Regions from separate parts of the Homo sapiens genome. Here region 2 is linked to region 1. The links come from fine-mapping of genetic effects on gene expression. A gene starts in region 1. The other region holds a variant in brackets. All regions are shown on one strand. Distances are from middle to middle.

Evidence for each region. PIP is the estimated chance that this variant, and not a neighbour inherited with it, causes the effect. A credible set is the group of variants that fine-mapping cannot tell apart.
Region 2: its variant is the best candidate, but not a certain one, in a credible set for the expression of ABRACL in monocytes (TOPMed, PIP 0.75).

What each region holds. Positions count from the first base shown.
Region 1 is chr6:139,025,728-139,031,108 of GRCh38, forward strand. It overlaps ABRACL (ABRA C-terminal like), which reads left to right and starts at 3,018. Exons shown (of 3, transcript NM_021243.3): 1 at 3,018-3,148. RefSeq lists silencers at 3,182-3,341, 3,602-3,971, 4,021-4,211 and enhancers at 3,865-4,159, 3,982-4,801.
Region 2 is chr6:138,882,824-138,888,204 of GRCh38, forward strand. ECT2L (epithelial cell transforming 2 like) reads left to right here. Exons shown (of 22, transcript NM_001077706.3): 16 at 1-48; 17 at 2,683-2,756; 18 at 2,851-3,007; 19 at 4,034-4,099. Among named protein-coding and RNA genes, the nearest start is that of ECT2L, 89 kb to the left of the region's middle. RefSeq lists an enhancer at 1-99. The variant TG/T (reference allele first, on the strand shown) is at 2,622.

The sequences.
Region 1 (5,381 bases):
GTATCTCCCTTTTCTGTTGGGTATATACCCAGGATGGAATTGCCATCCTAGAGATCCTCTAAGATAGAGGAAAAAATAGAAAAGTTTTTTCTATTCATTACAGTGCAGACAACTGCATTTTTAAAATAATGACTTCGATTTTCCATGAGTGTTTAAATATCATAGTGTTATTTTTCTCCTTCCAGGAACATGTAATAAGTTTTTAAGTAAAGTATTAGCATATAATATAACGCTTTATTCTGGAATTGTCTATAGCTACACTGTCTAATACAGCAGCCACTAGCCATAGAAGGCTATTGAGCACCTGAAATGTTGGGTAAATGTAAAATACAAAATAGACTTACAAGATTTAGTATGAAATAAAGAATGTACAATGTCTTATTAATAATTTCAAAATATCCATTACAGGTTGAAATGATAGTAGTTTGGATATACTGGGTGAAATAAAACATATTATTAAAATAAATCTCACCTTTTTAAAAAAAATGTGGCTACTAGAAATTTTAAATTGGACGTGTTGTTCACAATTTTATTTCCTTCGGACAGTGCTGGTCCGAATTAAATACATGCAATTAAATTACAATGCATGCAATTAAATACATGGATAAGGATTGTTTTAATATTTCAAATGTACATTACTTGCAGTTCTGTTTGACAAAGGACAGGTCATGGGCTACTTTGGACGATTTAGTATTGGCACTTTGTGGCTGGCACATTTATTTAAAATATATTAAATACTCTTTAATTTGATAAATTGTATTATTTTCTTTTTAGGTTAAACTTCCACATTGCTTACATTGTACATGATGATATTCCTGAGGGAATAAGAATAGATAACAAAAGTCTATTTGGAAATTGAAGGACTAGGATTGGATATGAAAAATATTAGTTAAGATTTTTTAATATTTCTTTTATCAAAACAGCTTTCTTTTTTCTTTTCTTTTCTTTTCTTTCCTTTTTTTTTTTTTTTTTTTTTTTTGAGATGCAGCCTCACTCTGTTGCCCAGGCTGGAGTGCAGTGGCACGCTCTTGGGTCACTGCAACCTTCGCCTCCTGGGTTCTAGTGATTCTTCTGCCTCAGCCTCCAGAGTAGCTGGGATTACAAGCATGTGCCACCACGCCTGGCTAATTTTTGTATTTTTAGTAGAGACGGGGTTTTGCCATGTTGGGCAGGCTGGTCTCGAACTCCTGACCTCAGGTGATCCGTCCACCTTGGCCTCCCAAAGTGTTAGGATTACAGGCATGAGCCACTGCGCCCAGCCGACAAAACAATTTTCTTAAATTGTAATTCCTTATAGATTAACATAAAGCTTGTGTTATACTTAGTTTAGCACATGTGTAAACAAAGTATCTTTTGGGTGAGTTTATTTTTATATTAACAAGGATGTTTACTTCTTTAGGTAAAGTAACCTATTTCTTTTTCTTTGGTTGGCAATTAGGGCAATACTAATTACCTAATCATAACAGAAGCGGTGCTCTCCAGACTCATTATTCCTATCATTGGATATTATCTGACTGATGAATTGTGATCCCTGTCACAGGCCAAAATAGCGAGGTCCTGCTTCGATAATTGCTAAATATATTTTTCTTGAATTATATATTTTTTGCCTTATGTCGACTGTGAAAGATATAAACTATAACTTCTCACCTTTCTTTTGGTGAGAAAAAAATAGGCCTCAATCATTTTGGTAACAATATAAAACAAGTAAAAGAAAAAAATAGGTCTGAAAAGATCTTGGAGTCACCTTAAACTTTATCTGCCATGAGACACTTAGAAGAATCAGACCTTTGTTGAAGATTACAGAACAGAGACTCCTTCAGTCACACCCAGGAGACAGGTATTCACCGTAAAGACTAGAATGAAGCGTGGGAAGTGGATGGATCCAGTGCAGCCCCAGGGAACTGAACACTCACATGCCCCTGGGAAGCAGGTCTTTGTTGCTCTCCTTCCATCACTTGGTCTCAGCTTGTCTTTGACTGGCTTCTACCACTTGTGCCTCCACCCAACCTGCTGCTACATTCTCCTGGTTTCTGCTTACTCAAATGTTTTGCATCCGAAGCCCATTTTGGCCCCTTCTGCCTTACCCTCTCTTAGCTCCAACCTTTCTCTTACATCAGACAGCTCCGTCTCTGCATTCTCCACTTTCCATTTCCAAGGGAGTGTCTGATTGGCTTACTAACTATCAGAGTCCGTGTTTGATGAGAACTGTTTGCTCCAGGTCACCTCACAGGATGATGACTACATCACGGATTGTGCGCTCTTGGGTCACGCGATCACTCTTAATTTAAATTAGCTGGGCTGGGGGTGGGGAGGGGGTAAGGAACGTTTTTTGTAGTTATTTGTGCAACCCCTGCTCTAGAAATAGTTTGGGTAACTGTTTCCTTTCCAAAAGGACTCTCTGGGTACGGTAAGCATCTCTCTCTCACACACGCATATATTAAAATAACAGTGACTAAAACAAAGGGAGCATGAATAAATTGAATTATGAAGTTAAATGTATGAAATAATGAATGAACAAGGGAAGAAACCGATACTGACCCAGGGTCAACAACTATCTATGTCCAAGTAAAATTTCTTTGCAGTCTGACAAATTGGCTTTCAAGATTGCATTTTGTTTTGCGAATTAAGCCATTTTTAAGTCATGAGTCGTAGTTTTCTGGAGGCCCCCGGCATCCGGAACCCATGAATGCCACGTTCTTTCTAGCAGCCTTCAGCAATTTGAGGGCGCTTTGTTTCTTACGTTGGGAGAGAAATCCATCAGGAAATCGACGCCCAGGATCAGATGCAGATCCTGGGATCCTTGGCTCTGAGTAGCACGGTGGAAAAGTGAGGTAATCCAGGCTCTGGGCCCGTTTTCCTAGGAGCCCAGGGCGCTTCACCTGTCTGCAGTCAGCCCCTTTCTTGGACGTCTCCTCCCCTGAGTTTCCTCCTCATAGGCTTGTCCCTGGGAGTGTGGGCGGCCCCTTTCTTGAGCGCAGAAACACTTACTTTTCCCCCTACCCTGCTCCTCCTCCTCCACAGCCGTCTTTCTCTTTGCCTCAGCCACTTCCTTCCTTGGCCTCACCCTCCCCAGTGCACTGAAGAAGGTAACCGGGTCCAGACCCACGCGGCGCCAGTTCTCCGGCGGGAAGGAAAACCGCGCAGAGAGGTGCGTGAGCGCCCGGGCAGATGTGGCTTAGGTAGCAGGGATGGACTGGGTGTCCGTGGTGCGCCGCCGGGCACCGCGGGCTGCGGTGAGAGTCGGGTCAGGAGGGGGCCGGGAGGGGGCTCAGGGCGCGCGGAAGCTGCGACCGGCTGGGCCGAGACCTCGCGGGTTGGGGTCCCGTGGGGCGCGCGCCGCCCACGCCCCCACCTCTCGGGTCGACTTCCGCACTCGGCTCACGTGACGTTTCGCCGGCCGGGGGCGGACTGGGAAGCCGGCAGAAATGGAACGATTTTTACCGCGGTGCGACGTGTCGGCTTTGCACTTGGCGGTGGTTCAGGAGCCAGTTCTGCAGAGCTGGGTGGGGAAGGGCTGGGGGCGAGAGGAGAGGCTGCCCCGAGGAACGTGGTGGCCTCAGGGCAGTGGACTCTGCAGCGCCGGAGGTGGGTGCGGCTCTGTGCGCTCCAGATCAGGGGGTGCAGAGTCGTGAGGGGACACCAGGGGCTCGTGGAGCCCGGGGCAGGGTCCGTTTTCGTCGCCCGGGTTGGGTGCTCGCTCTCGCGGCGCTTCGGGGCGCCCGGGCCACGGGGGAGGCAGACCCGCGGCGCCGGGCCGGGAGCTGCGGAGACAAAGACTTCCGGGACGCGGCCCTTCCCGGGCGCCAGCGGTGCCGCCCCGCCACGGGGGGCCCAGCCCCGCGCTCCCCAGCCCTGCACTGGTGCCGGCGGTGACCGTGTGATGATGGGCTGCAGGGCACGGGGTTAGGGGACCTCTACCAGGCAGAACCCCAAGCTGGTAGCAGAATGGCCAAATATGGAGTGAGCGCGCCCCAGACCGGAGGGAGTAAGGAGCCCAGTCACCCTTTGACCCGCACCAGCTGCTTGTCCGCGATTGCGAAGAAGGGCTGGGAAAACGTGCCCAGCCCGAGTGTGTAAAGTTGGTTCCTGATTCCGGACATACCTATTCCAGTAGGCTTTATTTCCTTGGATATTAGAAAATCTCCATGCATTGCCTCCAAACTTTTGAAAAATAACAATGCCCTGAGGGTCCTTAAATACATTCTAAAGTGTGTATTGGTGGTGAGTTTCGGGTTCTGCCCAGTCCTCCGACTTTCCGCTTCCTTTGTGTTTCCCACGCACAAAGCCGAAATCGATTCTGCGACAATTAGAGTGCCTGGCCGTCATCTACCTCGCCTTCCCTGGAGCCTTTTCCTGTCTTCTGGTCCAGCCGCTCACCATTAAGCTCTTCCCTTTAGACTTGCTCTGCTTCTCACCTCTCCTCATTGTTCTTTTCTTTTTTTTTTTCTTAGACATAGTTTCACGGTACTCGTGAGAATGTGTTACATTCGTATAACCAAATCAGGGTAATTGGTATATCCATCACCCTAAATATTTATCTCTTCTTTATGCTAGGAACATTCAACTTAACTTGCTTTTAGCCATTTGGAAGTGTACAATCCATTAATGTGAACTATAGTCACCCCACTGATCAATGCAACACCAGGTCTTATTTCTTCTGTGTTTATACCCATCAACCTCTCTTCACCCTCCGCCCCCTTCATTGTTCTTCATCTTGCTCTCTGCAGTCCTGGGATTCTGTCCTTATTATAAAAGGCCATGGGTCTTTAAAGGATTGTGTCACAATAGGTATTTTTCCCCCTTTGTCCCTCTCCTTCCTAAATAATAAATAAATAAAACGTCAAATTATGTATGCTAGCAATTGTTTTTAAACCTGTTATTTTCCTATTTATGGTGGTCTGGGCAGGGAGCCTTTCTTGCTTTGTAAGTGTTCTGCCTTGGTAAGAGCTCAGCATGTCACGTTTCATACAAATACCACTCACTATTATATTTAGTGTATTTGCATAATGGCAAAAGAGGAAGAGGAAGCGGGGAAACAGCCACCACGATGTGGTAGAGACAGCATTTAATTGTGGGGCATTAACCCCTGTTTCGTTATCCTTAAAATAGAGGTAAATAAATGCCTTGCAAGGTTCTTAGAACTACATGAATTAACGTAGATAAGGAGCCTGATGTGTAATTAATTATAAAGAAACGCTGGTTGCCTTTCATGCTTAAAATTGGATGAACGTACATCTGCTTACTATAATGCAGGTATGCGTACTATATATAATAGATGAATTTCCCCTTTGATGCTCATTATTCAATGAGAGCTAAGTCTGAAGTATGTTGCTGGAGGTGGGAGGAAGGAGCGAAGAAGGGTGTTAAAGAGATAACATCTT
Region 2 (5,381 bases), 140 kb before region 1:
ACCAATTTCTTCAACAATTACCCTGTCATTCTGAAAACTATTGAGAAGGTAAATGAGTTTCAATTCCATCATTCTATAAGACCTGAGCTAGAAAGGAAGTTACGTGTGGAACCCGAAAGACCAGCGTTAATAAGAAAGGCTTCTCTGCTCTTAGCTCCCAGCTGTCTTCCCATACTGTGTGATCTCTGAGGACAGGAACCCTGACTTAGGGGCTAGCACAATATTTGACACCCAGCATTGCCAGGAACTGGTTCTTAAACTGAACTCATCCTCATGCAAATGGCCAGGCTTTCACCTGCCCCAGATACCCTCAGCTTACAGGAAAATGCTCCACAGTTGAGCTTGGAATCCACTCTGCTACTACAATCCTGTGTATCCTTGACAAGTTCACTCTCTCATGTAGAAAATAAATTAATCATCCACATCTTTCTTGGAAGAACAATCAATTTATGAAATGTCACTATCAAGTAAGGAATGTCTTGGTCTTACATTTCCTAGAGAGTAAATTATTAACAGTTTTCCCTGTTGCAATTTCTGGCATTATTTAATCTGAGCAGGAATATCCAATTCCCTCATGTACCACTTGCTGCTCTTGTGGGGATACCTTCTTATGGGAATAACATCCCTCTTTCTTCCCTCCTCAATTGGTATCGAAAGCCTAGAAAAGGCTACCTTGTCACATGGCAGCACACTTCTGCCAGAGTCCACTGTGACCACTCGTCTTCACTGAGGCCCTGCAGGAAAGGCCTGTGGGCTGGGAGGCCTCTGGAGGGCTCCGGCCCTTGGACAGCTTCCTTTGTAGTATTCCTTCTACCCCACCCAGGGAGTCTAGTCCCTGCTGGACAACTTGATGATTCAAAAGTTACATAAATAAGGTAGTTTCATAGAACCGACCTTGGAGACAAGGATTGGAGCAAAGTATCACATGGTATCAGGAACACACTGGTGCCTAAATTTTTTTAGCTATAGATAATGATGCCTAGTTCACTAGCCCAGTGTGTGCACACAAGTAAGTACTTAGCTTAAATGTTAGTTATTTGGTTGTGGGGTTTGTTTTGAGACAGGGTCTCCCTCTGTCACCTAGGCTGGAGTGCAGTGGCATGATTACAGCTCACTGCAGCCTCGACTTCCCCAGGCTCAGGTGATCCTCCCACCTCAGCCTACCAAGTATCTAGGACTACAGGCATGTGCCACCACACCTGGCTAATTTTTTTGTATTTTTTGTAGAGACGGAGTTTCACCATGTTGTCCAGGCTGGTCTTAAACTCCTGGGCTCAAGCAATCTGCCCAACTCTGTCTCCCAAAGTGCTGGGATTACAGGTGTGGGCCACCATGCCAGCCAATGTTAGCTATTAATATGATTGAAATCCATGAATATTTCACTTGGTCTTAGCCGAAAGTCCAGTAATGAAATCAGTGAATATTTGATTTCTGTAAGTTAGCATTGCTGACATCTTTCAGGCATGGAAAGGGAGGTAACTTTACGGGTGCTCTAATAGTGATAAATGAATACATTTTAAAACAGATATTAAGGCTCAGTGCGGTGGCTCACACCTGTAATCCCAGCACTTTGAGAGGCCTAGGCAGGTGGATCATCTGAGGTCAGGAGTTCGAGACCAGCCTGGCCAACATGGTGAAACCCCGTCTCTACTAAAAATACAAAAATTAGCCAGGCATGGTGGCGGGCACCTGTAATCCTAGCTACTTGGGAGGCTGAGGCAGGAGAATCGCTTGAACCTGGGAGGCAGAGGTTGCAGTGAGCCGAGATTATGCCACTCTACTCCAGCCTGGATGACAGAGCAAGACTCTGTCTCAAAAAAACAAAAAACAAAAAAAATATATTAAGTACAGTAGAATACCTGTATAATAAATATTACTATGGAAAACGTAATTAACAGAAGTATTAAAGGTGAATACCATTAATAGTCAAGATCTTACTATACTGAAATAACATTTACTGTGTGACAGCCACTTTATGGATAGGATTGTTTTTTTTCCACACCACAACATTAGAGATGATATCCATGTTACAGATGAGAAAACTGAGGCTCAGAAAAGTTAAGTAATTTGACAAGGTTATATATTCGATTTATTCTAATTCAAATCCAGGCCCACCTGGTTGCAAAGTACATTCTTATTTGTCTATACTGATTAAGTTCAATGAATAGGGTCAGGTCTATGTATAATTAACACACATTCTTTTTTTTTTTTTTTTTTTTTTTTGAGATGGAGTCTCGCTCTGTTGCCCAGGCTGGAGTGCAGTGGCGCTATCTTGGATCACTGCAAGCTCCGCCTCACAGGTTCATGCCATTCTTCTGCCTCAGCCTCCTGAGTAGTTAGGACTACAGGCGCCCGCCACCACGCCTGGCCAATTTTTTGTATTTTTAGTAGAGACAGGGTTTCACCATGTTAGCCAGGATGGTTTCCATCTCCTGACCTCGTGATCCGCCTGCCTCCGCCTCCCAAAGTGCTGGAATTACAGGCATGAGCCATAGCGCCCGGCCAACACACATTCTTAACATATTAGGAAGACACCAATGGCACTACTAACAGTCTACTAATTGGTTAGACATAGATGTTGCCCTTTTGCTTCAGGCATTCCATAGATCATGCTTGCTCAG[TG/T]GAACAGTGGACTTTACAACTATCTCATAAAGTTTTGACAATATAATCCTCACCTTTTAGTGCAGAGAAATGATACCAGCATTCCGAACTTTCCTGAAGAGGCATGATAAGACCATTGTTACCAAAATGCTGAGGTACGTTCTGAGGGAGAGCACAGCAGGGGTCCCCCCAGAGAGGGCATTCCTGGGCCTTCAGAGACCAGAGCTCCCTTCTCTATGCCTCATACAGCCTGCCAGAGCTGCTGCTGTACCCATCCCGAAGATTTGAAGAATACCTTAATCTTCTCTACGCTGTCAGGCTTCATACCCCTGCAGAGCATGTTGACCGTGGGGACTTGACCACTGCAATTGACCAAATCAAAAAATATAAAGGTTATATAGATCAGGTTGGTTGCTGATAAGAATCTGTGTCCTTTAAACATGTTACAATGCCTTTGTGGTACTCCCACTCAAAGATCCTGAGACACCTTATCTTCTTGTGGGGTTCTTCGCTTTAAAGTCTTTCATCCTTTTAATGCTAAATCAATAGTGTGTTCCGTGATTTCCAACACTAAGGGCATCTATTCTAAGCCAAGCAACATGAGACAATGTTTTCAGATATTTGTACAAATATAATGAAATTTTTATGAAAGTTTGAAGAATGAAGTATTTGGACTGATTTTTTACACAACTAAAAGGCAAAAAAAAAAAGTAAAATCCTTTGTTTCTGAAAGTACTTTCAATGCATTAATTAGCTTTCCTGCCTCAGTGAGTACAATGGTCATAATTATTCTCTGAAGAAGTAATTAAGCACCTTGGAGTACAGTACTATCATTCTGAAAATATTATTATTATATTGTGCATACTGTAAACAGGCATCTGGGCTGAATGTAAACTGCTAACACATTTTTCCATGCAGATACTTTTTTGCATTCAGTTTTGTCACTTGCCTTTGTTTTAAAACATTGGGTACAGAAAATTGAAATTTTTTTTTTCTTTTTTGAGACAGGGTCTGGCTCTGTCACCAAGGCTTGAGTGTAGTGGTGTGATCTCGGCTCACTGCAACCTCTGCCTCCCTGATTCAAGCAATCCTCCCACCTCAGCCTCTTGAGTAGCTGGGACCACAGGCAGGCGCCACCATGCTTGGCTCTTTTTTTGGCTTTTTTAAAATGTGTGTAGAGATGAGGTTTCACCACTTTGCCCAGGCTGGTCTTGAACTCCTGAGCTCAAGCCATCAGCCCACCTCAGCCTCCCAAATTGCTGGGATTACAGACGAAAGTCACTACACCCGGCCCAGAAATTTGAAACTTTCTATTATAACATATGAAAATACCAAGCCCTGTATCAAGCGCCATAAAATATTTTAATCTATTTCTTTTATGAATAAAAATGTCACAATTTTAGTTTGCCTAAAAGTACTTTTTTTCCCCTAGATGAAGCAAAACATCACTATGAAGGATCATCTGTCAGATATACAGAGAATCATCTGGGGATGCCCTGTATGTATTCTTAGGAACTTGCTGTATCTCATGCTCATGAATACAACCTCCAGTCTTTTGCAAAAGGAGACCTACAGATCCCAAGGCAGCTAGTATTTGTGGAATGCCTGCTACGTGCCAGGCACTGCCATGCTCTCCCATTTCACATCCTTGTTACCTGCAAGGTTGCTCTATAAGAAGGGGCACAAGTGAGCTTGCCCCTATCCCATAACTTTTTGGCAGTCTTTGCTCCTTTATTGGTATTACTGTGATCACAATGCCCTGTGAGGAAAGGGGCCATGTGTTCTACTTGTTTTCTTTTCTTTAATTTTTTTTTTTTTTTGAGACCGAGTCTCACACTGTCGCCCAGGCTGGAGTGCAGTGGCACAATCTCAGCTCACTGCAAGCTCCACCTCCCGGGTTCACACCATTCTCCTTCCCCAGCCTCCCGAGTAGCTGGGACTACAGGTGTCCACCACCACGCCCAGCTAATTTTTTGTATTTTTAGTAGAGATGGGGTTTCACCGTGTTAGCCAGGATAGTCTCGATCTCCTGACCTTGTGATCTGCCCGCCTCGGCCTCCCAGTGCTGGGATTACAGGCGTGAGCCACCACGCCCAGCCATGTTCTACTTGTTTTCTATCTCCCTGCATATGATACCTGGTGCAGGATTCTGCACCCTGATGGTATCTGAACAAGCTTTAGAAGGCCTGTGTTAGCGACGTGTTAACCTATAGAATTTCATCTGGCCCCACCCTCCCTTATCTCTTACAGTTTTCCTGACTTCCTTATAATCATACCACACAGATCCACTCACGATTCTCTAATGTTAACCTCTTTTCACACATTTGTGCTTTGTGCATACTCTTTCTTCTCTGAAATTGCTTTTCTTTCCTATTTCACTGGATAAACCCCTATTCATTCTATAAAAATCTAGTTCAATCATCATATCCTTTGCAAAGTTTCCCCCAGCATTTCCAGCTGTCAGCGGCTTCTTTGTAGGGATTTTGCATCCTGAACATTCCTGTTACATTTTACTGCAATCCTTTATTCATGAAACTGGGAGCTCCATCATGTGTGAGCTATGATTTACTTGCCTTCTCATGTCTGGCACATAAGAGGAGCTCAGGATGTGAGTTACGTTGAATTAAAGTATCAATTGATTAGAAATGTTATTTTTATTTAGTCAAATTGGGGAAGCAAGATGAAGTTGTTTTGTCATAATTTTGGTCTGGACATTTTGTAGGGAAAGATAATTGAGGTTGATTGGTTTGCAAAGATCCAAATTCTTGAAACTCAGAGTC